Linked DNA regions of Homo sapiens. The protein of the gene in region 2 interacts with the protein of the main gene of each other region in a pairwise test. Each region holds a gene or a part of one and is shown on either strand. Other genes may lie near its edges.

Evidence for each region.
Region 1: the proteins of CREM (region 2) and MKNK1 interact in binary tests that used the Homo sapiens proteins (3 or more experiments, as listed by UniProt).
Region 3: the proteins of CREM (region 2) and GLIS2 interact in binary tests that used the Homo sapiens proteins (3 or more experiments, as listed by UniProt).
Region 4: the proteins of CREM (region 2) and UBAP2 interact in binary tests that used the Homo sapiens proteins (3 or more experiments, as listed by UniProt).

What each region holds. Positions count from the first base shown.
Region 1 is NC_000001.11:46,566,256-46,573,281, forward strand, and holds part of MKNK1 (MAP kinase-interacting serine/threonine-protein kinase 1), read right to left. Parts: intron 5,913-7,026; coding exon 5,808-5,912; intron 5,285-5,807; coding exon of another isoform or gene 5,162-5,284; intron 4,001-5,161; exon of another isoform or gene 2,244-4,000; coding exon 2,188-2,243; intron 2,043-2,187; exon of another isoform or gene 1,951-2,042; intron 1-1,950. UniProt on the Homo sapiens protein: May play a role in the response to environmental stress and cytokines. Appears to regulate translation by phosphorylating EIF4E, thus increasing the affinity of this protein for the 7-methylguanosine-containing mRNA cap.
Region 2 is NC_000010.11:35,185,845-35,192,870, forward strand, and holds part of CREM (cAMP-responsive element modulator), read left to right. Parts: intron 1-2,355; coding exon 2,356-2,544; intron 2,545-7,026.
Region 3 is NC_000016.10:4,326,053-4,333,078, forward strand, and holds part of GLIS2 (zinc finger protein GLIS2), read left to right. Parts: intron 1-377; exon of another isoform or gene 378-442; intron 443-2,207; exon of another isoform or gene 2,208-2,288; intron 2,289-3,057; exon of another isoform or gene 3,058-3,117; intron 3,118-6,162; 5' UTR 6,163-6,228; coding exon 6,229-6,400; intron 6,401-7,026. UniProt on the Homo sapiens protein: Can act either as a transcriptional repressor or as a transcriptional activator, depending on the cell context. Acts as a repressor of the Hedgehog signaling pathway. Represses the Hedgehog-dependent expression of Wnt4.
Region 4 is NC_000009.12:34,038,879-34,045,904, reverse strand, and holds part of UBAP2 (ubiquitin-associated protein 2), read left to right. Parts: intron 1-7,026. UniProt on the Homo sapiens protein: Recruits the ubiquitination machinery to RNA polymerase II for polyubiquitination, removal and degradation, when the transcription-coupled nucleotide excision repair (TC-NER) machinery fails to resolve DNA damage. May promote the degradation of ANXA2.

The DNA.
Region 1 (7,026 bases), on a different chromosome or scaffold from region 2:
TCCTGTTATGTTTGGCTTATTTCACTTAGCATAATGTTTTCAAGGTTCATTCATGTTGCAGCATGTATCAAAACCTCATTCCATTTTATGGCTGACTAGTATTCCATTGAATGTATGTACCACATTTTGTTTATCTGTTCAGCTGCTGATGACCACTTGAGTTGTCTCTACCTTTTTGGCTGTTGTGAACAATGCTGTAATGAATACTGCTATACAAGTATCTGTTTTCAATTGTTTTGGGTAATACCTAGGAGTGGAATTGCTGGGTCATATGGTAATTCTGTGTTTAGCCTTTGAGGAACCGCCAAACTTTTCCACAGAAGCTGCACCATTATATAATCTCACCAGCAATGTATGAGGGTTACGATTTCTCCATAACCGTAACAACACTTACTATTTTCCATTTTTTAAATTACAGCCTACCTAGTAGTATGTGGTGGTATCTCATTGTGGTTTTGACTTGCATTTCCCTAATGACTAAGGATGTTGAGCATCTTTTCATGTACTTGTTGGACATTTGTGTACCTTATTTGGAGAAATGTCTGTTCAAGTCCCGTGTCCATTTTTAAATTGGTTTGTCTTTTTGTTGTAGAGTTTTAGGAATCCTTTATATATTTTGGATATTAAACCTTGACCAGATATATGATCTGCAAATATTTTCTCACATTCTGTAGATTGTCTTTTCACTTTCTTGATAGATAATGTCCTTTGAAACTTAACCTCTCTTTTTCTTAAGAGACAGGGGTCTCACTATATCACCCAGGCTGGCCTCAAACTCCAGGCTCAAGCAATTCTCCTACCTCAGCCTCCTGAGTAGCTGGGACTACAGGCATGCAACCGCTGTGACCAGCTAATTTTTAAATTTTTTGTGGAGATGGGGTCTCGCTTTGTTGCCCAGGCTGTTCTTAAGCTCCTGGCCTCAAGGGATCCTCCTGCCTCAGCCTCCCGAAGTGTTGGGATTATAGGCGTGAGCCACTGCCTGGTCCCAATTATTCCTCTCTTTCGCCTTGCCTTTCCTCACGTTCTTGTTATGAGACAGAATCTCTGCTGCCCAGGCTGGAGTGCAGTGGTGCAATCATGGCTCACTGGCTATACATGTTTCCTAACTTGAGTTTCAGTTTCCTCGTCCATAAAATGAAGGTAATAATAGTATCTACCTCATGATATTTCATAAACACTAAATAAATATAAGTGCCTGGCACAATGTAAGCACTCAAGAAGTGTTCACTGTAATTATTAGTAGTAATCATCATAATAATGATAAATTATAAAGGTCTACGACAGAATCAGTGACAGAAGTCACAAGATCTTATTTGAGCGAATCCATTATTATTCCCCATAAAAGAGTTGTGAGTAGCAGACTGACTCATTCATTCAAGGCCACCCCTTATTTATGAGCCGCGGCTTCATCCAGACCACAATATATATGCTCTTGAATACACACATGTATATACACGCAGAGCTGTGAACGTGGGCCCCAACACCACCAGTGCCTAAATCTCTCCTAATAAACACAGAATTTGTCAAATTCATACACTTCCGTTTACTTAAAGAGATCTGCTTCACATAAGATTAAGTTGTTTGGCTGGGCATGGTGGCTCACGTTTGCAATCCCAGTACTTTGGAAAGCCAAGGCAGGTGGACTGCTTGAGCTCAGGAGTTCGAGACCAGCCTGGCTAACATGGTGAAACCCCTGTCTCTACTAAAAATACAAAAATTAGCCAGGTGTGGTGGCACATGCCTGTTGTCTCAGCTACTTGGGGGGCTGAGGTGGGAGAACCACTTGAGCCTGGGAAGTCGAGGCTGCAGTGAGCTGTGATCATGCCACTGCATTCCAGCTTGGGTGGCAAAGTGAGACCCCGTCTCAAAAAAAAAAAAAAAGTATTTACGACTTCCATCAACTGATATAAAGATAGATGCATTGGACTAGAAAATATTAATTTTGTGCAGGTCTCATATATTTTCCAAACTCTCAGGCTTACATCAATCACACTGATGATCAAGAGCGAAGAAAGGACGAGGATGGGCAGAAACATCACACAGTAAGTGTAACATTCTCACATGTCCAAGACGATCAGTTCAAGTTGGTGTCTGAGGCCAACGGAACTGCTAACAATCCATCCTGAAAGCAAGGGTGGCTTCCTCGGTAAGTATAAACTATAACATTCCAAATCAGGCCCAAAGTACCTTTTCTGGAGATTCACACAATATATTTTCTGGTTTCAGATCACGATGAGCAATGCCTGACATGACAAAGAGCAAAAAAATGGTTAACATATGCAGATAATTATCAAACATTCCACACACAATTAATTTTTTCCAAATGCTGTAGTTCGCAGATTAATTCCCAATTATGGTACATTAAAAAATCAACGAGCTGCAGGAGGCAGAAGTAACCAGCGACACAAACCAAAAGCACAGTTGATTCTGCGGGTTCTTTTGAAGAGGAGGCTTTAGAAGTCTGGCAGGGATAAGAAGGGCTAAATGAATCCCAGCCAGCCTACCCCTCAGTACCACAGTGACCACCAAGAAGAAGGCCTAATGCAGAGCAGAGCAGAGAGCTCTGCAAACGGCAATGCTTGGAACAGCAATGCAGAAATAATTAGTGCCTTGTTTAAGAGCATCTCAGGGGGCTTAACTGCTCTACCTCATTTCTTCTTGTGTGGCCGATTTAAAAAAAAAAATTCCTTCAGTGCGACTGTCTGAATGTTCAGAGGAGCAAGTGTTAGTTACCAAATCTCCCAAAGTGACCTATTCCCTTCTCACCTGCTTTGCATGTCTAAGGCAGCCCTGCCAGCAGCAGAGCAAAGACCGCTTTGGCACCAGGATGCTGTTATTTTTGTTTTTTAAAATAGAGATGGAGTCTCGCTATAGCCAGGCTGTTCTTGAAATCCTGGCCTTAAGCAATCCTCCTCCCTTGGCCTCCCTAAGCATGGGGATTACAGGTGTGAGCCACCTCGCTAGGCCCACTGAGGGTTGCTGTTTTTAAGAGAAAACCTCTGCACTTTGGCCAGGCCTCCTGAAGGCGACTGGAGATAGCAGCTTAGCCCATGAGGGGTTAACCTGCTGACCTGGCCAAGAAGGCACCTCGGGGAGAGCCCTCTTCTAACCAAAGAAAGGGACAAAGAACTAACTCTGGGTCATGGTGTTTTGGTGGAGGACACAGAAACCTCCCTTTTGTCTTTCCTTCCACAGCACATGCAGCACAGAGACAGGGCTGGAAGGCTGAGCAAGAGTCAGAGCTACAGTTGGAAGTATTGGAAAGCGGCAGCGGATTCTCGGGGTGATGGGAAAAGCAAAATCTGCTTCACTAAAACTCCGTCGGTGATCAACTTTTTCAGCAGTCCTCCGATTCCCGACTAGAAGGCAAAAGCCTGGCCCAGGCCACGGGAGGCACTTCACTAAAGAAGAAAAACCTGAGCTCCAGCAAGCTCAGTAACTTCATCAGTCACCTAATTGAACGAGAACCCAGAGCAACTCAGTCCAGGCTGCACAAATTGAGTAGCACTGCTCTGCAGCTCGCTGCACTAAAAGTGGAAGATATTTTCCATTACAGCAAGTGCTCCCACAGAAGGATCACGAGCCACACACGGAGCCTTACTCTCCAAATAGGCGCCCATGGCCCAGTCGTCCCTTAGCCTAAGAACTCAGAGAGCCAGGCTGTAATAATGGGGCTGCCGTGTGAGCACAGCAGCCATCGAGCTGCTCCGGTTCATTTCCCAGAGGTTGAGCTGCAGTGTGTCCAGTATTTAAAAGTATGGAACTTGTTTCAGGGCTGACCCATTCTTGCCCAATTCATCTTCCCCGTGTGAAGTTATTTAGCAAACAGCCAAGTTCAGCTGGAAATCGTTTTTCATCCCCTCCAACTTCTAGTCACATGGGCAGCTGGCCAGCTACATGTTAACAAGCGCCTCAGAACTCCTAAGACACCACCGGCCTCTGTTCCCTTCAGTGCATTCTTGTAAATAAATAAATAATAAAACCTGCCTTTACCACCCCCTCCAAGGTGTGGATCTTGTAAAAAGCGTGACCCAGTTTTGCAATCTACAGAGGCAGCTTGGGGAGCAGTTGTAAATCTTTGTCAGGCAGGTGTTACCTCTATGCATCCCAGCTTTCAGAAACAGAGCTGATGCTATTCATCATGCTGCGGAAGGTACAGACACCCCCTTCTAGTTTTCATCCTAGGTGCAAGTCAGGGCCCCAACATGGGCACTGTCAGTATGCAGACCTCTTTCAGCCACTGGAGGAGGGAGGTGGGGTCAATGAACCTGAACCTCCTGGACATGCGCCACACTGGTCTGCACCGGATTGTGGGCACCAGGTGGGATGTGTGAGTGGCATGCCTACCACTGGTCCCGGGCACCCACAACCAACATGGCTGGCCAACATCCGCAACAGCAGAGGGGGCAGACCTAAGTCACAAGTTATTCATTTCACTCCCACCCCCAACAGGCAGAATGCTTTAAGGGAATTAATATTAGGAATAAAAATGCTTTCTTCCTGGTGGGAGGTGAGGATGGAGGAAATCGTTATTTATTGAAGAACTATGACATACCAGGAACTATGCTCCATCTATGCTGCACATATACAATACAAACACAAGATACACATTTTTCATCTATAAAAAGCTTAGAATAGTGCCTAGCACATACCAAGTGCTATATAGTGTTAACTACAGTCGATGATGTTATTATCTCAAATTCTCACCATAGGGTAGGCATTATTACTGAGAGAACACATAGCTAGAAGAAAAGTGAAACCAGAATTCATTTTTTCCAGGGTACTGCTGTTAGGCAAATTTAAAAAAAAGTATGTAATAGTCAAACAGATTTATGGAAATGTAAAAACAATTTGTGGAAAGATTTAATTCACTACAAAAGTTCCTGAATAATCAGTCATAGGAAAGGGGCTGTAACCTGAAGCGTAAATCAAATACTAGTAACCTGTGAGTTACCAATGTGCTTTTCAACAGATACCTCAAATGTACATGTTAATAGAAAAGTATAAGCTGGGCACAGTGACTCACACCTGTAATCCCAGCACTTTGGGAGGTTGAGGCAGGAGGATCGCTTGAGCCCAGGAGTTTGAGACCAGCCTGGGCAACAGAGGGAGACCCCATCTCTACAAAAAAATACAAAAATTTCCAGGTGGTGGCACACACCTGTAGTCCCAGCTACTTGGGAGGCTGAGGTGGGAGGATCACTGGAGCCCAGGGAGGTTGGGGCTGCAGTGAGCCCTGATGGCGCCATAGCACTCCAGCCTAGGTGACAGAGAGAGACTTTGTCTAAAAAGGAAAAAAAAGGAAAAAGAAAAATAGATTTTTCATTTACTGTGAACAAGATATATTAAACTACATATATCCTATCATGCCAATTTTGAAAAGAGACAGAGGTGATGTATATTTTAAGACTAGAAGGAATAACATCAAGATATTCACACTAAGAAGGTTGTATTGTGTATGAGCTTTATATTCCTCACACGATAAGAATCTAAGAAAAGAAACATCATCCACACACAGTCACACATACCCTGTTCAATGTGAAATTTATTCTTTCTCCTCCCTGCTCTTTCTCCTGTATCCCTGTGCTGCTCAACAGCTTCACCACCCACCCACCATCCGCAGCATAAGCCTAGGAGCCATCCTGGACTGTTTCTCCCTCAACTCCCATGGGTGAGCATGTTCACACCTCAAGCTGCCTTCCAGCCACACCATCTCCTGCACCAGCCCTCTGCCTGGCCTACCACCTCCCTTGGTACCCAGAGGCTGGCCAGCCCAACCCACCCACCAAGGCAAAGGCTGGGTTCACCTTTGGTATGCAGGAAGTCAAGGGCAGCAGCAACGTCCCGCACCACTCGGCTGGCTTCTCGCTCATTGAAGTGCTTTTGCTTCTGGATGTGGGCTAAGATGGAACCTGGGGAGCAGAGGGGACATAGAAGAATGCCTTTTTGGGCTCTAGTAAGTATAAGTTTTTTTTTTAGACGAAGTCTCACTCTGTTACCCAGGCTGGAGAGTAGTGGCACGATCTCGGCTCACTGCAACCTCCGCCTCCGGGTTCAAGCGATTCTCCTGTCTCAGCCTCCTGAGTAGCTGGGATTACAGGCAGGCACCACCATGTCCAGCTAATTTTTGTACTTTTTTTTTTTAGTAGAGATGGGGTTTCACCATGTTGGTCAGGCTGGTCTCGAACTCCCGACCAAGTGATCCGCCTGCCTCAGCCTCCCAAACTGTTGGGATTACAGGCGTGAGCCACTGCGCCTGGCCGTATAACTTCTTAGAGGCCAAGTTTTCCCAAGTTTGGAAAACTTGGGGTGGGGACATAGGGATTCATCGCTGACTCATCACTACCTGTCCAGCTCCAAGTGTGGGGCCTGGTACGGAGGAGGTACCAGCTTGTATGTCTGTTAAACAAAACTGGACTACTCTCTTCTGTACCTGTCTATGAGGAGCTCAGAAGCGAGAGAGAACAACTATAAATAGGGCCAAAAAACACTAATGATGCTGAGGCTGATTTGGCTTCTGCAATCAAAAGGAATAAAACTGAAGGCACTTGGAGCTGAGGGGGCCTTTCTGCAGCAACGTTTTCTCCCCTGCATCTGATCTCTGATCCAAACAAGAGCACAAACTTTCAAATGGAAATGCCACACCCTTGCCAGACATGTAAAGGCCTGGGAAAAGGGGGGAAAAATGGGTTTTCCGCCTGAGCTTTCCCATTCATTATTGTTTTGTTGGCAATGGCTAACATTTACTGAGTAGTTACTAGTGCCATGTGCTATGGAATACTCTTGAAATAAACTGTCTTATTCTCACCACAATTGGACAAAATGGGTAGTACACTTATTCTCGTTTTACAGAGGGAGATCCTGAAGCCAAAAAGAAAAATGGTTGAGCAACTTGCCCAAGATTACGCACCAGTAAGGGGTGAGGCCAGGACTTAGGCCCAGGGCGTCAGTCAGGCCTCCGAGTCTGTGCAGACATCCCCCAGCAGGACTTGTGGTCTGACTGCTGCAGGGATGGACTCTCTTGAG
Region 2 (7,026 bases):
GCAGCATGTGGAAGTCTTTTTAAAAATGTTAATCTATCTTCCTGTGTAGACACTGGCACCTTAGGTGAAAGAAGTGAAAATTTGTTGTTGTTACTCTTTCCATAATTCTCATAGGTTTGTCCTATCAGGTTATCGCCTAAGTGCTTTTTTGCCTAGATGCCTTTAAAAACGTTTGGAAATGACTTGAAAATATTCAGAGTGTATTTTAAACACTACTGTTACGCTACTGTAAGGTATTTACATTGATGTATAGATGTCATGTTATTCTGGTGATGTGTTTTTAAAATCTTCATTGTAAAGCCTAGTTAGCTAGTTTATATGTGATTTTTTAAAAAGCATAGCCTCTGGTACCATTTAATATCTACTGTTTGAAGCATGCAGTTGGAATCTTTATGTTAAAATATACAGACCTTTCAGATATTTTAAATAATACTTGTCTATTAGAGTGAAATTTTGAAACAAAACGTTTGATCAGTTATTCTTTGGAAGCTTCAAGTCAATTAATATGTTAACTTTTAAACATGACTGGCAGATCTCAGTATTTAAAGGAAATCTACTTCCTATTTGTTGCCATTAGCTGTAGTTACTTGAGATACTTGGTAGAGGTAAATATTGTAGCACAAATCCTTTTAGTAACAGTTACTTTTTAAGGACCTTTGCAACTTGACAATTTATATTTCAGGATTCTCCTGACATAGACAAAATGGCAAAGGTTACAGTTTTCTAGACTTTAGCTTTATAACCAAAATATGTTTTTATATATATTTATATATAAATATATAATATATGTAAATTATATAGTTATATATAACATATGACATATATAATTATAATAAATATATATTAAAAATTTTGGTCATATATACAACATATATAACTATATATAATTATATATAGTTATAATTATATATAGTTATATATAATATATAACAAATTATATATAACATAATTATGTTATATATAATTGTACATAACATATATACATATATAGGTATATATACGTATATATGTTATATATAATTATATATTATATATAAAATATAAATAATTATAAAAATATAATAATTATTAAAATATATGTTATATATAAATACAATATAAATTATATATATAAATATATAATTTATATATTATATGTGATATATATTATATATTATATATAATATAATATATAATATATATCACATATAATATATATTATATATAATTAATATATATAATTAATATAATAATATATATAATATATAATATATATGATATATATTATATAAATATATAAATATATTAATATATTAATATATAATATATATAATATATATTATATATTAATATTAATATATAAATATATTAATATATAATATATATTATATATTTATATATATAAAATATATAATTATATATAACATATATAATTATATGTATGTTGGTTTTTTTTTTTAGATGGAGTCTCTGTTGCCCAGGCTGGAGTGCAGTGCCGCAATCTCAGCTCACTGCAACCTCCAACTCCCGGGTTCAAGTGATTCTCCTGTCTCAGCCTCCCGAGTAACTGGGACTACAGACACCTGCCACCACACCTGGCTAATTTTTGTATTTTTAGTAGAGGCGGGGTTTCACCATATTGATCAGGCTGGTCTCAAACTCCTGACCTCAGGTGATCTGCCTACCTTGGCCTCCCAAAGTCCTAAGTTTACAGGCGTGAGCCACTGCACCTTGCCTATATATTTCTTAAAAACTACTTTCTTTTGATGACAAATCAGAAAAGTAGTTAGCTGAATGAAGGTAGAAATTCATTTTAATTGCAATATTAAATGGGAATTTTTCTTTTCTTTTCTTTTCTTTTTTTAGAGACAGGGTTTTCCTGTGTTGCCCAGGCTGGCCTTGAACTCCTGGGCTCAAGTGATCCTCCTGCCTTGGCCTCCCAAAGTGCTGGGATCACAGGCATGAGCCACCACACCTGGCCTTAAATGGGAATTTTAAATGGTAGAAGAATGGTGTTTATAAGGAAAAACATCTGAGAGAATGGAGAAAACCAGGAAGCTGGACTCTCCCTGTCTCCTTCTCCACTCTTCCTCTTGAGTGATGTAGTCAGCTGGATGCTAAGGAGGAGGAACACTCCATGGGCTCTATGAATCTCAAACATTTCTGAATATAAAATATTTTCAAGTGTTTATAAGCTTTTCCTAGAGTATCGTCCCATGACGAAGCTGATCTTCCTTCTCAATTCAGCATAGAAAATAAGGGTAACCTGAGAAAGAAGCAATGGTAATAAATAGACCCAGAGTATATTCTTCCAATAGGGGATTATTAAAAATAAATCTTGAAATTCTCTAATATTTCTTTTCTTTTTCTGTTAAGTTGCTATAGCCCAAGGTGGAACAATCCAGATTTCTAACCCAGGATCTGATGGTGTTCAGGGACTGCAGGCATTAACAATGACAAATTCAGGAGCTCCTCCACCAGGTGCTACAATTGTACAGTACGCAGCACAATCAGCTGATGGCACACAGCAGTTCTTTGTCCCAGGCAGCCAGGTTGTTGTTCAAGGTATATTTTATTAATCTAATACATTTAGAATACCTATGGATTACTATATCACACCATTGAGTGGTGATTTTATAGTTTTTTGAAATAGATCGAAGGTAGATGGTGGGGGGTTGGGAGGCACTTAAAAAGGCTTACAGAAGAAATATTTTAATACATTAAACAGCAAATTAAGTTTTATCATTTTTCGCCTTTTAGCAGGTTTTACTGGCTCTGGAGAAAGGCCAAATTCAGAGTAGCATGATAGAAAAAGAGAGATAGAAACATGAATGAATTTTTTTTTTTTTTTTTTGAGATGGAGTCTCGCTCTGGCGCCCAGGCTGGAGTACAATGGCGTGATCTCGGCTCACTGCAACCTGTCTCCTGGGTTCAAGTGATTCTTCTGCCTCAGCTTCCCGGGGAGCTGGGATTACAGGCATGAGCCACCACGCCTGGCTAATTTTTGTATTTTTAGTAGAGACGGGGTTTCACCATGTTGGGCAGGCTGGTCTCAAACTCCTGACCTCAGATGGAGTCGTCCTGACCTCAGGTGGAGGCCTCAGCCTCCTAAAGTGCTGGGATTACAGACGTGAGCCACCGCACCCGGCCACATGAATGAATTTTTAAATTAATTAGATATCCTTCATTTGGGGGTTGCAAATGTTGTACCTAATAGATTTCTATTACCTAATCTATGACAATTTAAGTATTCAGGCTATGATGCCCCAAATTTGTTTTTTTCCCTAGCTGTTACTTTCAAGTCTAATTTCTAGGCAACTCATTTCAAAACAAATGCTGACTTTGGGTTTTTTGTTTTTTTTTGTTTGTTTGTTTTTTTGACTGACTGTTCTTAGTTGTTTGAATTCTGAAGTATCCATTCTAGCTCTTATGGAAGCTGTCAGTAATGAAATAAAAGTTGAGATGTAGCCCTAAGCTTTTAGGGTTACCTGAGATTTCAACTGGATTTGCGTTATACATTATTTTAATTCAGTTGTGCCTATGATAACTGTAATAGATGTATTTAATACAGCTTTCAAAACTCCTGTGTTTTAATTGAATTCTATTCCTCTTGGTCCATTCGCTTAGGATTTAGGATATAGCACTATTTTTTAAAAATTTGCTTGCTTGTTTGTTTGTTTGTTTATTTATTTATTTATTTATTTATTTTTGAGACAGAGTCTCGCTCTGTTGCCCAGGCTGGAGTGCAGTGGCGCGATCTCGGCTCACTGCGACCTCCGCCTCCCAGGTTCAAGCAATTCTTCTGCCTCAGCCTCCCGAGTAGCTGGGACTACAGGTGCATAACGCCATGCCCGGCTAATTTATTGTATTTTAGTAGAGACGGGGTTTCACCGTATTGCCCAGGCTGGTCGTGAACTCCTGAGCTCAGGCAGTCCACCCACCTTGGCCTCCCAAAGTGCTGGGATTACAGGCAGCACTAACGTTAAGGAAAGTAAAATCAGTTATTTTAGTTCGAATGTCTTGCAGGTATGATAAGCATATTATAATTGATGAGTCTCTTGATAATTATACTCAGGTATTTTGGGGGTTAATGTGGACTATGGTAAAAGTGTGTGAAGAACTGAGGTGGTGGCATTTATGGAGTAAAAAATGCATAGTACAAACCCAGTACTTTAATGTTTTCTTGAAATGTAAAATGAAAGCCACCTGTTCTATTCCCCCCATACTCATGGACCATATTTATGTCTAGGTGAATAATCTTAAAGAATAATTATTTCTTCTCATTTTATCTTTGTTACATGGAAGAATCTACTGCAAACAACAGAGTTTTGAGAATTTTTAATGTTTTACACAATATGCACGTAAGTTTGTGCCTTGGGGTTTTTAAGAATTTTCTTCCACAAGTCACAAAGATTTTTTTCCACATTTTCTTCTATTTGCTTTATGGTTTTACCTTTCACATTTATGTCTTTAATGTATCTGGGCTTCACTTCTGTATATAGTATTTGGTGGGAATTCATTTTTAACTTTTTTCTCCGTATATGGAGCCACTCCCAAGGGTTTGTTGTTTCCTCACTGGTGTATGGGGCAGCCTTAATTAGACAGTGGGTTTGCTTTTGCACCTGGATCTGGCCAGTCTTCTGTCTGATTCATCTTTTTCTGAATCCCAGCGCCATACATGTTTGTTATCTCATAAAACAAGTTCCCCTTGTCTTTTTTCTCAGTTTGATACAGAGTTAGTTTTTTGTGCACGATTATTCTTTCATATGCATTTGGAATAAGTTTGAGTTTCTAAATAGTAGTAGTAATAATAATAATAATAAAACCAATGATGAGACTGCATTAATTTTTTTTTTCTTGAGATGGAGTCTCGCTCTGTTGCCCTGCCTGGAGTGCAGTGGCACGATGGCTCACTGCAAGCTCCACCTCCCGGGTTCACGCCATTCTTCTGCCTCAGCCTCCCAAGTAGCTGGGACTACAGGCGCCTGCCACCATGTCCGACTAATTTTTTTGTATTTTTAGTAGATACAGGGTTTCACCATGTTCGCCAGGATGGTCTCGATCTCCTGACCTCATGATCCGCCCACCTCAGCCTCCCGAAGTGCTGGGATTACAGGCATGAGCCACCATGCCCAGCCAAGACTGCATTTAATTTAGGGAGAGCTGAAGTCTTCATAATGTTAAGTTGACCTATCCCAAACCATAGAAAGTCTTGTTTATTCAGATCTCATTTTACTTCTTTTAACAGTTGAACATTTTTCTTTTTATTTATTTATTTATTTATTATACTTTAAGTTTTAGGGAACAGTTGAACATTTTTCTTCACGGAGATCTTGCATATTCTTTCTTTAGTTGGTTCCTAAGTACTTTATGGGTTTTGTTGCCATTACAATGGTACCTTATTTTGTATTGTATTTTCTAATTGTTGCTGGTGTAGAGAAATACGGATTATTTTAAGTCGATCTTTTATCTATTAACTTTGCTGAACTCTAATTACTTCTAATAATTTACTGATTCTTTGTGATTCGGTCTGTGATCCTATGTGAATGTTTATACAAATAGTGATGTTTTGTTTCCTCCCTTCCAATCTTTATTCCTGTTTTCTTTTTCTCTTTTTTTCTTTTCCTTAAATAATCATGGCCAGGAGCTCCAGTTTAAACACAGCAAGGCCAGTGGGCATTCTTGTCTTCCTGAACTTAGTGGCAGTGTTCCCTGCCCTCCTTCTCCCTTCATCTCACTGAAGGGCCCTGTCAGCTTCTTTGTGGATTCTCAGTGCCTGTCTTGGCTGATGCCTCAGCAGTATTTAACACTGTCGACTTCTGCTTCCTCCACTTCCTGAGACTGTGTCCTCCTTGCTCTTCTCTCTCTGCTGCTTCTCTGTCAGTCCTGTTGCTGGGCTAAGCTTCCCCTGCCCCTGTCCTGAGTGTTTCAGTGATCCTCAGGCTCACTCCCCCACCCTCTTCCTGCTGAGCTCCCTCCCTGAAGGACTCCCTCCCACGCTGGCTTCAGTTCACTGTGACTATGTCCTGACTCCAGCTGGTTCCTTAGATGGCCACACATACCTCTGACTCCTAAAATCCACTCTTCCTATCTTCAGTGATTGACCACTACTATCCTTGATGCCAGAAACCTAGGTGTTGTCCAGTATTCTTCCCAGTCTCCATTCAAAGTCACTGTGTAGATTCTTCTGCCTGGCTGAGCCATGAATGCTTCTGCCACTCCACAGCCCTCTGTCCTGGCCCTGGCCCTGGCCTGGGTGCTATCCCTCTGACCCAGGCTACCCCTGTGGGCTACAGTCTCCGGCAGCCACCGGAAGCTGGCTATTGTGGAACAGCTTTCTGATCCTCCTAATCATGCCAGAGGCAGCAGCTCCCTTCTTGGCTCAGTTTTTTGGGAATTGTTCCTGAAAGTTCAGCTAAACTCTTCATTCCTCACAGTGATTCTGGGAGCCACTGATAGTTCTTAAAAACAGCAGTTTCTTGCCCCCAACATCTCCATTACTGCATTGCACTTGTTTTGTTTTGTTTCGTTTTGTTTTGTTTTGAGACAGAGTCTCACTCTCTTGGCCAGGCTGGAACACAGTGATGTGATCTTAGCTCACTGCAACCTCTGTCTCCTGGGCTCAAGCATTTCTCCTGCCTCAGCTTCCCGAGTAGCTGGGATTACAGGCATGTACCACCATGCCCAGCTAATTTTTGTATTTTTAGTAGAGACGGGGTTACACCATGTTGGCCAGGCTGGTCTTGAACTCCTGAGTTTAGGTAATCCGTCCATCTCGGCATCCTAAAGTGCTACGATTATAGGCATGAGCCACCACACCTGGTGTCTGGGGTCTTTTTAATAAGGGCACTAATCCTGTTCACAAGGGTGTCACCCTCATGACCTCATCACCTCTCAGAGGTTCCACCTCCAAATACTATTGCATTGGAGGTGAGGATTTCAACAGAGGAAATTGGGTGGGGATACAAACATTCAGTCTATAGCATCCACTCAAAAGCATCCATCAATGTCTGTGACCTGTTAGACAAAGCTCCAAATCTTTCATGT
Region 3 (7,026 bases), on a different chromosome or scaffold from region 2:
ACGGTGAAACCCTATCTCTACTAAAAAAATACACACAAAAAAATTAGCCGGGTGTGGTGGTGGGCGCCTGTAGTCCCAGCAACTCAGGAGGCTGAGGCAGGAGAATGCTGTGAACCTGGGAGGCGGAGCTTGCAGTGAGCTGAGATCGTGCCACTGCACTCCAGCCTGGGTGACAGAGTGAGACTCCATCTCAAAAAAGAAACAAACAAAAAAAACAAAGGTGACCACATAGACTTCTGAGAGATGCATCTTGAGGCCTTGTCTCCAAGTTCTCAGCTAAATGGCCACTGCTGACCAAAAGCGCACTCGCAGGACACTCCAAGGCAAGGGGTGTTCCTCACATTGCCCTTGACAACACTGCCACGCTGGTCACTCACCTGACCCCATGCTGCTGGGAGCGGGGCAGGGATGCAGCCCCATCTTACAGAGGACCCGCTTCCTTCTGCAAAGAGACCAAGTGGTTCTCAGGGTGGGTGCACACAGCCCCCCAGTGCACCCTGCACCTCCACAGGCTTAGGGCCTGCCAGCCACCCTCCCCCAAGCAGGAAAGGAGGAGCTTTTTTTGTTGTTTTTTGAGACAGGCCGGAGTGCAGTGGTGTGATCTCGGCTTACTGCAGCCTCAAACTCCCCAGGCTCAGGCGATCCTCCCACCTCAGCCTCCCGAGTAGCTGGGACCACAGGTCCCTGCTTCCACGCCCAGCTATTTTTTTTTTTTTTTTTTTTTCCGAGATGGAGTCTCACTCCGTCGCCCAGGCTGGAGTGCAGTGGCGCGATCTCAGCTCACTGCAACTTCTGCCTCCCTGGTTCAAGCGATTCTCCTGCCTCAGCCTCCCGGGTAGCTGGAATTACAGACACCTGCCACCACGCCCGGCTAATTTTCGTATTTTTAGTAGAGAGAGCGTTTCGCCATGTTGGCCAGGCTGGTCTGGAACTCCTGACCTCAGGTGGTCCGCCCTCGGCCTCCCAAAGTGCTGGGATTACAGGCATGAGCCACCGTGCCCGGCCACCGGCTGATTTTTTTACTTCAAACGGGATTTTTCCATGTTGCCCAGGCTGGTGTAGAACTCCTGCACTCAAGGGATTCTCCTGCCTCGGCCTCCCAATGTGCTGGGCTTACAGGCGTCAGCCACCGCGCCTGGCCTAGAAGGAGCTTTATTCAGAGCAGGACTCCAACCAGCTCCCTATTAGCCTAGTGATCTCAAGCCTCAGTTTCCCCATCTGTGAGATCGGGAAAATGACAGCAGCTACTGCCAGGCAGGGTTGTAGAGGGGTCATTGAATCCATGGACAGATGGGCCTGACACGTGGTCAGTACCTAATGGTCCTTTACCCCCTCTGGTGTATGACCCACCCCAGGCCAAGGGGCCCTGGAAGAGACTGTCTTTTCCGGGCCTTAGTTTCCCTGAGTGTGCTGGGTCGCCCCGTGCCTTCCAGTAGGGAGGGTGGGGACAGTGGCCGGCCCCGCCTGCCAGGGCGGGATCCTTGGCTACCTGGCCTGGCCGGGGACTGCGGGCGGGGGGCCGGGTGGCTCCGCCAGCGCTGCAGCTGGGGGCCGTCTGCTCGGGCTGCGGTCGGGCACACAATAGCAGCCATTGTCTCGGCCAGGGTGGCGGGGGGCCCGCCCAGCCCACCCTCCGGGTGACCCCCGCCCTGCGGTGGGTGGGAAGGGCAGGGCCCGGTCCCCCGAAGCCCCCGCCGTCCCGGTGGTCCCCGCGGCCGCCCCCGCGCGCTTCCTCCCTCGCCGCAGCCGCTTCCTCCCGCTCGCCCCGCTCTAATTAGTTCCTTTTGCAGCTGGAGGAGCCGCGCAGCGGCCGGTTCCGCGGCCACCCCCACCCCCCACCGACAACCCCAGCCCTCGCCCCAACCCCTGGGCCCTTGCGTGTGGGGGCGCTGCCCTGGGCGCATCCCAGGCTGAGTGCTCGAGAGACGCGGCCCTGGGCTCTGTGCACCCTCCACGCTGCGCTGTCCCACCGGGGGGAAACTGAGGAACGGAAGGCTCCACCAGGAGGCGCAGAGGGGCGTGGGGCCGGCGGGCCTTGCGCTGCGCCCGGGGAGCATCCACGGGGTGCCCCCACCTGACCGAGAGCCGGCTCCTGCCCTCGGGACCCCGCAGTAATTAGCACCCAGGCCTCTGGCTGAGCTTGTCCAGAGCCAGGCTGTCGGCCTTACGCTGGGGAGAGCCACGGCCACCCGCTCATGGGCACTCACTCAGGGTTCCCTGGTTGCAGGCCCGCTGCTCCCCGCTCTGGGCCTCCGAGGCTTTCAGGAGAGCAGGAACCTAGCTCTCGCCTGCCCCCTTCACCCAGCCGGGAACAAAAGCACAGAGCAGAGCCCAGAACTGGCTGCTGCCGGTCGGGGCGGGGGTGGAAGGGGAGGCTTTAAGCCTGGCCAAGGTCAGAACTGAAGCAGGGTCACTGACCGTCTCCCCTCTGGGGTGGGGCCTCCATTGGAGGAAAAACTCTGGGTGGGGAGGGCCTGGAACAGGGATGCTGGGAGGTGTAGGGCTGGGGGCAGCTCCTTCCTTTCCCGGGGGCAGGGACGCAGGCCGTGTGCCGGGCTCTGGCCTGCATTGGAATGAACCCCTGCCTCCCTGGCAGGACCCAGTGGCAGGAAGTGTGTGGGGGTGCCCCTGGGGACTGGACCTGCTGATGAAGGGGGTGCATTGGAGTCCTCCCTCTGGCTTTGGGCCGTGTGGCTGGCCCCACCTGGGGAGACAGGCTCCTCCTGGGGAAGTGTCCCCTGCAGGCCCTAAGAACAAGGTGACTCAGGGCCCCTGGCTCCCCGAGTCCCCATCTGTCCTGGGAAGGCAGTGGGGCAGGTGCCAAAGGATGTTGCTTGGGCAGCGCTGCCAGTGAGTGTCCCCGTCAGCTGGAATTCCCAGTTCCCAAACCATCCTGCCCTTGTGGTCCCCTTCTCCGGAAGGGTGGGGGTGGGGGTGAGGACAGAGGCTGTGGGGAGGCCTGTGGCCCCAGGCCAGCCAAGGGACCAGGCCACCAGCCCTTCCTGGCTCCTGAATTCTTCATCAGCATAAATATTTACTTCCTTCCTCCCCGTCCAGGCTTCCAGCACAGAGGAGCTTCGGGGAGGCTGGATTGCGCCTGTGTCTAAAAATAAACAGGTAGCAGGACGATAGACACACAGATAGACAGATGGAACTGGCAGGGGTTCAGGCAGAGGGCAACTCCCTGTCCAGCCAGAGAAACAGTGGAGGGGACCCTGGTCCATCCATCACTGTCACCCACCCACCTGCTAGCGGGGGTGTGGTCCCTACCCCACCGCATCTCTGGGAGCCCCTGGCCCATGCATGGCCTGGGAGGCAAATTCAAACAATCTGACAGCTCCAACAGGGGCGAATCGCAGACCTAGGTCCCACGGCCTAGTGCAGCTGCCCTGGCTCTGATGATGCAGCCTTGGGAGAGGTGGGCAGCCCCCCTGTGCTGAGACCCCCGTGTCAGCCATGTTGGGGTGGGGTCTGGGGATGTGTCCCTAGAAGCAGAGGATCTCCAGTGAAGGGGGGACCATTTTATGCCCTACTTGCTTGGAGAGTCAGGGCAGAAGGGGAGGACGTGGGAGCTGCCTTCCTGTCCTGCCCTGTGGACAGCATCTCTCCCCACTCACAGGCTATGCTAGCCCCCAGGGAAACACACGGGGGCATATCCAAAGTATTTCACCATGTAGTAGTTATGTCCACCATGGCCGCCCTTTGGTATTGAGTAAAGACCCCAATACCGCGAAAGACGGGATCTCACAGCGTGATTGTGCGGCAGTTAGATTTTCAAGTTGTAATAATCCCAATGAACAAACGCAAGGAAATGTCGTGTTTAACCGCGTAGGAAAAGATTGCTGCTCTGAATGTGAAGTTTGGGTTTAGAATGAAGTGTTGACCTTGTTCTTGGGTCGGTGGATACTGTTAGATCATTTGCATGTGAGGAAAATTACACCAGGTGGGGCGAGGTGGCTCACACCTGTAATCACAGCACTTTGGGAGGCCGAGGTGGGCAGATCACCTGAGGTCAGGAGTTTGAGACCAGCCTGGCCAACATGGTGAAACGCTGTCGCTACTAAAAATAGAAAAATTAGCTGGGTGTGATGGTGTACACCTGTAATCCCAGCTACTTGGGAGGCTGAGGCAGGACAATCGCTTGAACTCGGGAGGCAGAGGTTGCAGTGAGCCCAGATCACACCACTGCACTCCAGCCTGGGTGACTGAGAGACTCCATTTCCAAAAAGAAAATGAAAATTAAACCAGTGAGAAATTCTAAGAAAAATGATGAAAATTACAGCATGGGAAGTGATACTAAAAGAATACCATCTCCAGTAAAAAATAATTTCTACATATTTATATATTAACCGCCAGATACAGCTGGTCAACTCCACCAACCCTGCCCCAGCTGGCCAGGCCAGGCCACAATCCCCAGCTGCCCCCTGGTGGCGACCCAGCGCCCTGGGGCTCCCTGGCTTGCGATGCCTCTCCTCTAGGCCTCTGCAGGGAGGGCGGTGGGGCCCCTGGCTGTGCCCACTTTCTCGGTTTGCCTGGTGCGAGTTCCTTGGTGGTGAGCGTGGCTACCTGCCGGCCATTTCAGAGGATGCTCCTTGCCCCCTGGCCTGGTTCTAGATCTTTGGGGTCAAACAGGGCGGGAGTCCGGAGCATGGCTCCTGCTCTGTCAGAAAAGGCTGTTAGGACACGGCTAGCCAGTTCCCGGGAGATCTGGCTTCAGGCCTTGAATCTTGTTGGGAACAGGCCCCCCAAAATCTGGCTGTAAACTAGCCCCAAAACTGGCCATAAATAAAATCTCTGCAGCGCTGTGACATGTTCATGATGGCCATGACGCCCACGCTGGAAGGTTGTAGGTTTACCAGAATGAGGGCAAGGAACACCTGGCCCACCCAGGGCGGAAAAACTGCTTAAAAGCGTTTGGCTTTTTGTTTGTTTGTTTGTTTTTGAGACGGAGTCTTGCTCTGTCGCCCAGGCTGGAGTGCAGTGGTGCGATCTCGGCTCACTGCAAGCTCTGCGTCCCGGGTTCACACCATTCTCCTGCCTCAGCCTCCCGAGTAGCTGGGACTACAGGCGCCCGCCACCACACCTGGCTAATTTTTTTTTTTGTTATTTAATAGAGTTGGGGTTTCAGCGTGTTAGCCAGGATGGTCTCTATCTCCTGACCTCGTGATCTCCCCGCCTTGGCCTCCCAAAGTGCTGGGATTACAGGTGTGAGTTACTGCGCCCGGCCACAGGCGTTCTTGAACCACAAACAATGGCATGAGTGATCTGTGCCTTAAGGACACGCTCCTGCTGCAGATAACTAGCCAGACCCATCCCTTTATTTCCCATAAGGAATACTTTCAGTTAGTCTATAATCTATAGAAACTATGCTAATGACTGGCTTGCTGTCAATAAATACGTGGGTAAATCTCTGTTCAAGGCTCTCAGCTCTGAAGGCTGTGAGACCCCTGATTTCCCACCCCACACCGCTATATTTCTGCGTATGTGTCTTTAATTCCTCTAGCGCCGCCGGATTAGTCTCCCGACCGAGCTGGTCTTGGCAAATCTGATAGTTTTTCCACTTCTGAGCTCTGCGATCTGAGGCGATGCCTGTAAAAGACGCAGTTTCGCCAAGCGTGGTGGCTCAGGCATGTAGTCCCAGCGTTTTGGGAGGCCAAGGCAGGAGGATCGCTTGAGGCCAGGAGTTCGAGATCAGTTTGGGCAACATGGAGAGACCCGATCTCTACAAAAAAGAAAATTTTTTTTTTTAATTAGCCAGGAGCGGTGCCTGCCTGTAGTCCCAGCTACCAGGGAGGCTGAGGTGGGAGGATCGCTTGAGCCTAGGAGGTCGAGGCTGCAGTGAGCTATGATTGTGCCACTTGCACTCCAGCCTGAGTGACAGAGCGAGACTCTGTCAGCAAATAAAATTCAGTTTCATGGCAAAATGAAGAATGTGAGCTTTGTCTTCCCCAAGAGACTCATGGGAAGCAGATGCGGAATCTCTGAGGAGGCTGTTGGCTCTCCCCCCATGATAGCTGCCGGCCAGGTCGCTCGGAGGGTCTCCCTACCCAGGAGACAACCTCACACTGCCCCCTGCTCCTGCTCCTGTTAGACTGTCATGAGTACAGCCCGAGGAGAAGCCTGGGGTCTCAGTGCCACAGCACAGCTCCTGTCCTTCCCCAGGTTCCTGCGTGAAGACCAGCTGGGAGCCCACTGCCTGCTGCCACCTCCAACTCCGGCCCCCTCACCATGCACTCCCTGGACGAGCCGCTCGACCTGAAGCTGAGTATCACCAAGCTCCGGGCGGCAAGAGAGAAGCGGGAGAGGACGCTGGGTGTGGTCCGGCCCCGTGCTCTGCACAGGGAGCTGGGCCTGGTGGATGACAGCCCCACACCTGGCTCTCCAGGCTCCCCGCCCTCAGGTACTGGCCCTGGGCAGGGCAGGGGGACTTAGCCCTGATCCAGTCATGGTGACAGGGAGAATGGCCAAGTGTGTCCACCAGCATGTAGCTGCAGCCCCTCTCGGCTTCCGGTTCATGGGAAGCCCGCACGCTTGTCCTTCCATCCGCCCAGCATCGTATGTCTGCAGGGAGGTGGGAGCTGCAGTGCCCAGCTCACGTGGCTGGCACACGATGCAAACTGAGGCCTCTAGGCAGATCTGGAACAGAGCTGGTCGGGCAACCAGGCATTCAGAAGGAGCGGCAGTAGTCCCAGGACCTGCACCCTAGGCTGTGGGGTGGTGCCGCTGGCCAACCTGGGCAGTAGAGGCTGGGTCTGAGCCCAGGAGGTGCCTCTCAGGGATTCCCGGTGCTTGGGCCCAGGGTGGTGGGCACCACTTCTGCCCTGCCTCCAAGAGCAGAGTCACCCGAAAACCAGATTCACCGCTTGTCTGAAGGGGAAGGCTATGGGAGCAGCCCAGCCCGAACCTGCCACTTTACAGAAGGGAACACTGAGGCAGGAAGGGGCCTGGGAAAAGCTAGAAAGGTTCCTACCTGCCCGTCTGACAGGGACCCAGGGGCCCTGGGTTCGAGTCCTGTTCTGTTATTAA
Region 4 (7,026 bases), on a different chromosome or scaffold from region 2:
GGAGGACATGTAGGGAATATCACCATGTAATCTTTGTGGTAGATTTTGAAGTAATTTTGCCCCAACTATCAAGTATTTAGGAATAGGATCCTTTTTTTACTAACTCAAAGAATCAAATTTATCAGATTAGTTTTTACAATTTTAATGTAAACCACTTATGCTGATATTTCCTGCTGAGTTTACTTGACATTTTTTAAGTTTCTCAAAGATGCTCCTTAAAAATTTTCTTTTGTGACTGGGCACTGTGGCTCATGTCTGTAATCCCAGCACTTTGGGAGGCGGAGGCGGGCGGGTCACGAGGTCGGGAGTTCGAGACTAACCTAACCAACATGGTGAAACCCCGTCTCTACTAAAAATACAAAAATGAGCCTGGTGTGGTGGCGCGTGCCTGTAGTCCCAGCTGCTCCAGAGGCTGAGGCGGTAGAATTGCTTGAACCTGGGAGGTGGAGGTTGCTGTGAGCCATGTGCCATTGGACTTCATCCAGCCTGGATGGAGCAAGACTCCGTCTCAAAAAAAAATTTTTTTTTTAATTTTTATTTTTTTCTACCCTTTTTTTTTTTTGAAGACAGTCTCACTGTTGCCCAAATTGGAGTGCAGTGGTGCAATCTCGGCTCACTTCAAGCTCCGCCTTCTGGGTTCATGCCATTTTCCTGCCTCAGCCTCCCGAGTACCTGGGACTACTGGCGCCTGCCGCCACGCCCGGCTAATTTTTTGTATTTTTATTAGAGACGGGGTTTCACAGTGTTAGCCAGATGGTCTTGATCTCCTAACCTCGTGATCCGCCCGCCTCGGCCTCCCAAAGTGCTGGGATTACAGGGGTGAGCCACGGCGCCCAGCCTTTTTTTACCCGTTTGTAAACAATGTTTGATAAGTTTCCATTTTTTGATAACTAATTTTCATGCTGGACATAGCATAATTGAATTGGAATCCAGTTAACTATTTGGATTTGAAGTATGAAATAGGGCTCACATTAAGGAGTAGAGTAGGTGTTTTATTTAAGACTAGGTAATACTCTTCATTTATTTATTTATTTATTTACAGATGGAGTCTCGCTCTGTCACCCAGGTTGGAGTGCAGTGGTACGATCTTCGCCCACTGCAACCTCTGCCCACCGGGTTCAAGTGATGCTCCTGCCTCAGCCTCCTGAGTAGCTGGGGTTACAGGCGCCTGCCAACACACTTGGCTAATTTTTGTAATTTTAGTAGAGATGGGATTTCACCATGTTGGCCATATTGGTCTTGGAACTCCTGACCTCAGGTGATCCACCTGCCTTGGCCTCCCAAAGTGCTGGGATTACTTGCGTGAGCCACCACACCTGGCTTCTTCTTTTATTTTTATTTTCTTGAGACAGTCTTTCTCTGTCGCCCAGGCTGGAGTGCTGTGGTGCCTTGGCTCACTGTAACCTCTGCCTCCCTGGCTTAAGTGATTCTTGTGCCTCAACTTCCCAAGCAGCTGGGACTACAGGCATGCATCACCACGCCCAGCTAATTTTTTTTTTTTTTCGAGACAGAGTCTTGCTCTCTTGCCCAGGCTGGAGTGCAGTGGCGCTATCTCGGCTCACTGCAAACTCCGCCTCCCAGGTTCACGCCATTCTCCTGCCTCAGCCTCCCGAGTAGCTGGGACTACAGGCGTGTGCTGTCAAGCCTGGCTAATTTTTTGTATTTTTAGTAGAGACAAGGTTTCACCGTGTTAGCCAGGATGGTCTTGATCTCCTGACCTCGTGTGTGATCTGCCCGCCTCGGCCTCCCAAAGTGCTGGGATTACAGGCGTGAGTCACCGCGCCCGGCTAATTTTTTTTTTTTTTTTTTTTTTTGAGGTGGAGTTTCATTCTGTCACCCAGGCCAGAGTGCAGTGGTGTGATCTCTGTTCACTGCAATCTCCGCCTACTGGGTTCAAGCGATTAGCCTGCCACCGTGCTCTGATAATTTTCGTATTTTTTGTAGAGACAGGATTTTGTCATTTTGGCCATGCTGGTTTTGAACTCCTGACCTCAGGTGATCCACCTGCTTCGGCCTCCCAAAGTGCTGAGATTACAGTTGTGGACCACTGTGCCTGGCCTTTTTTTTCCCCCTGAAACATGGAGTATATGTTTAAAAAAAAAAAAAGTTGGAGCCTGGCTCCATGGCTCCTGCGTGTAATTCCAACGCTTTGGGAGGCTGAGGTGGAAGGATTTCTTGAGCAGGAGTTCGAGACCAGCGTGGGCAATATAGTGAGACCCTGTCTCTATAAAAAAAATGTAAAAATTAACTGGGCATGATTGCATGTACCCAGAGTCCCATCTACTTGTGAGGCTGAGGTGGGAGGATTGCTTGAGGCCACAGTGAGCTATGATTGTGCCATTGCACTCCAGCTTGGGTGACAGAGTGAGACCCTATCTCCATAAATAATAGGATCATACTTTGCATACTTGCTGATTTTTATTGAAAAATACAGCATAGTTTGGGTGTGGTGGCTCATGCCTGTAATCCCAGCACTTTGGGAGGCCGAGGCAGGTGAATCACTTGAGCCCAGGAGTTGGAGAGCAGCTTAGACAACGTGGCAAAACCCTGTCTTTACTAAAAATACAAAAATTAGCTGGGCATGGTGTGCTTGTAGTCCCAGCTACTCAGGAGGCTGAGGTTGGAGGATTGCTTAAGCCTGGGTGGTTGAGACTGCAGTGGGCTGTGATTGTGCCACTGCACTTCAGCCTGGGTGACAGACCCTGTCTCAGAAGAAAAACCCAAAAAACAGCATACATACCGTAGATGATATATGAGGCATAAAAACATGTAGAGTTGTCATTGTATAACGTAGAAGGTGGTTGGGGGTAAACACATATGTAGAGTTGTTTTTTTTGGAGACAGGGTCTTGCTTTGTCGCCCAGGATGGAGTGTCTTGGCATGATCATGGCTCACTGCAGCCTCTATCTCCCAGGATTAAGGCATCCTCCCACCTCAGCCTCCTGAGTAGCTTGGACCACAGGGATGCATCACCATGCTCAGCTAATTTTTCTTTTTGTAGAGAGGAGTCTTGCTATGTTGCCCAGGCTGGTCTCTTAGGCTAAAGTGATCCTCCTGCCTTGGCCTACTAAAGTGCTGAGATTACAGGTGTGAGCTTAATGCCTGGCCCCATATGTAAAATTAAAAAAAAAAAGTAAAATGAACAACCAAGAAATAGGACATTACTGCTACCTGGAAGTCTCCTGTGTATGCCAGCTCCCAAGGCATTTCTTTTCGCTTTCCTTGAGGTAACCATTACCCTACATTATAGGTTTACTATTCCTTTGTGTTGTTGTTTTAAAATAGAGACAAGGTCTAGCTATGTTGCCCAGGGTGGTCTTGAACTCCTGGACTCAAGTGATCCTCCTGCTTGGCCTCCCAGAGTCCTGGGATTATAGGTATGAGTCACTCTGCAGGTTCTACTGTTCCTTTTTTTTTTTTTTTTTTTGAGACGGAGTCTTGCACTATCGCCTGGGCTGAAGTGTAGTGGCCCGATCTCAGCTCACTGCAACCTCCACCTCCCAAGTTCAAGCGAATCTCCAGCCTCCATCTCCCGAGTAGCTCGGATTATAGGTGCCCGCCACCACGCCTGGCTAATTTTTTGTATTTTTGGTAGAGATGGGGTTTCACTGTGTTGGCCAGGCTGGTCTCAAACTCCTGACCTCATGATCCGCCCACCTGAGCTCCCAAAGTGCTGGGATTACAGGCATGAGCCACCACCCCAGCCTACTGTTACTTTTTTACAATAATTTTACCTTATATGTATATCCGTAAGCAACATATGGTTTAATAGTGCCCATTTTCAGTCTTATTCTCAATGTAAGAATTGTATGATTCTTCTGATGCTTGATTCTTTCACTCTTACATGCTTGAGATTTATCCATGTTGATTTCTTTTTTTTGAGATAGGGTCTCAGTCTGTTGCTCAGGCTGGAGTGCAGTGGCTCGATCCTGGCTCACTGCAACATTCACCTCCCGGGTTCAAGCGATTCTCCTTCCTCAGCCTCCCAAATAGCTGGGACTACAGGTGCCCGCCACCATGCCTGGCTAATTTTTGTATTTTTTGGTAGAGACGGGGTTTCCTTGTGTTAGCCAGGCTGGTCTCGAACTCCTGACCTCAGGTGATCTGCCTGCTTCGGCCTCCCAAAGTTCTGGTATTACAGGCATGAGCCACTGCACCCAGCCCCCATGTAGATTTCTTTTTTCTTTGTTTTGTTTTATAAGACGGAGTCTTGCTCTTTTGCCCAGGCTGGAATGCCAGTGGCACGATCTCGGCTTCTCAGCTCACTGCAGCCTCTGCCTCCTTGGTTCAAGCAATTCTCCTGCCTCGGCCTCCCGAGTAGCTGGGATTACAGACACCTGCCACCATGCTCAGCTAATTTTTGTATTCTTAGTAGAGACGGGGTTTCACCATGTTGGCCAGGCTGGTCATGGACTCTTGTTTGTTTTTTTTTTTTTTTTTGAGATGGAGTTTGCTCTTGTTGCCCAGGCTAGAGTGCAATGGTGCGATCTTGGCTCACTGCAACCTCTGCCTCCTGGGTTCAAGCAATTCTCCTGCCTCAGCCTCCCAAGTAGCTGGGATTACAGGCAGGCACCACCATGCCTGGCTAATTTTTTTTTTTTTTTTTGCATTTTTAGTAGAGCTGTGGGTTCACTATGTTGGGCAGGCTGGTCTCGAACTCCTGACCTCCAGCGATCTGCCCACCTCGGCCTCCCAAAGTGCCGGGATTACAGGTGTTAGCCATCGTGCCCGGCCCGTTGATTTCTTATAGTAGTATGAGGTTACATTGTAAGGATGTGCCATATGTTGTCTATTTCATTGTTGATGGATATTTGTCTCATTTCCAGTTTTTTGAGATTACCAATTTTACTTGTCCTCATGTGGACATTTGCCACCCTGCCCACAACAAACAAAGTCCATTTTCTCAAGACTACATAACTGAGAGTGGAATTTTTGGTTTGTATGTAGGGTATGTGTAACTTTTACTAAGTAATGCTAAAGTGTTTTCCACATGTTGCACAGTTGTTCTCAGGCTTGTCAGCTGAACCACAGAACACAGAAAGTTGAGTTACTATTTTCTCAAATCTGTCAAGGATGGTACATAATGAATTTCATTCTAGGTGTCTGGAAAAAGTTCAGCTTATACACAGAGTGGATGCCCTAAGAATTGGGAATTCATTCTCAAAGACTGAGTGGTTTAAGAGTTCTACATCCTTGCCAACATTTTATGTTGCCTTTTTAGTTTTAGCCAATTGTAGTGGGATGTTCTAGATATATCTTTCATGAACGCCACATAGCTGGATTTTGCTTTGTTAAGTTAGCAACTTGCTAACTTCTTTTTAATTAATTAGAGTGTATCGCTATGTTGGCTGGGCTGGTCGTGAACTCCTGGGCTCAAGTGATCTTCCCACCTCACCCGCACAAAGTGCTGGGATTGTAGGAGTGAGCCATCAGCTAACCTCTTTAACTAGAGCATGGAGACCATTCATATCTGTTGTAATTACAGATATTTTGGATATATGTCTGCCATTATATTTAGTCTTCTAGTTGGCTGGCCTGTGTGTTTGTTTTCTGTCCCTTTTTTTTTTTTTTTTTTTTTTTTGAGACAGAGTCTCATTCTGTCACCCAGGCTGGAGTGCAATGGCGTGGGCTCGGCTCACTGCAACCTCCGCCTCCCGAGTTTAAGGGATTCTTCTGCCCCAGCCTCCCTAGTAGCTGGGACTACAGGCACGTGCCACCACACCTGGCTAATTTTTTTTTTTTTTTGAGACGGAGTCTAGCCCTTGTCGCCCAGGCTAGTGTGCAATGGCGTGATCTTGGCTCAACGCAACCTCCGCCTCCTGGGTTCAAGTGATTCTCCTGCCTCAGCCTCCCAAGTAGCTGGGATTACAGGCATGTGCCACCATGCCCCCGGCTAATTTTGTACTTTTAGTAGAGTCGGGGTTTCTCCATGTTCATCAGGCTGGTCTTGAACTCCCGACCTCAGGTGATCGCCCGCCTCGGCCTCCCAAAGTGCTGGGATTACAGACGTGAGCCACCGTGTGCGGCTTGTATTTTTTTTTTTTTTTTTTTTTTTTTAGTATTTATTGATCATTCTTGGGTGTTTCTCGCAGAGGGGGATTTGGCAGGGTCATAGGACAATAGTGGAGGGAAGGTCAGCAGATAAACAAGTGAACAAGGGTCTCTGGTTTTCCTAGGCAGAGGTCCCTGCGGCCTTCTGCAGTGTTTGTGTCCCTGGGTACTTGAGATTAGGGAGTGGTGATGACTCTTAACTGCCTTCAAGCATCTGTTTAACAAAGCACATCTTGCACCGCCCTTTATCCATTTAACCCTGAGTGGACACAGCACATGTTTCAGAGAGCACGGGGTTGGGGGTAAGGTTATAGATTAACAGCATCCCAAGGCAGAAGAATTTTTCTTAGTACAGAACAAAATGGAGTCTCCTATGTCTACTTCTTTCTACACAAACACAGCAACAATCTGATTTCTCTATCTTTTCCCCACATTTCCCCCTTTTCTATTCGACAAAACCGCCATCGTCATCATGGCCCGTTCTCAATGAGCAGTTGGGTACACCTCCCAGATGAGGTGGCGGCCGGGCAGAGGGGCTCCTCACTTCCCAGAAGGGGTGGCCGGGCAGAGGCGCCCCCCCCACCTCTCGGACGGGGCGGCGGCCAGGCGGAGGCGCCCCCCAACTCCCCAACGGGGCGGCTGGCCGGGCGGGGGCTGCCCCCCACCTCCCTCCCGGAAGGGGCGGCTGGCTGGGCGGAGGCTGCCCCCCACCTCCCAGACGGGCCGGCTGCCGGGCGGAGACGCTCCTCACTTCCCAGACGGGGTGGCTGCCGGGCGGAGGGGCTCCTCACTTCCCAGACGGGGCGGCTGCTGGGCGGAGGGGCTCCTCACTTCTCAGACGGGTCGGCCGGGCAGAGACGCTCCTCAACTCCCAGACGGGGTCGCGGTCGGGCAGAGGCGCTCCTCACATCCCAGATGGGGTGGCGGGGCAGAGGCGCTCCCCACATCCCAGACGGGGTGGCGGGGCAGAGGCGC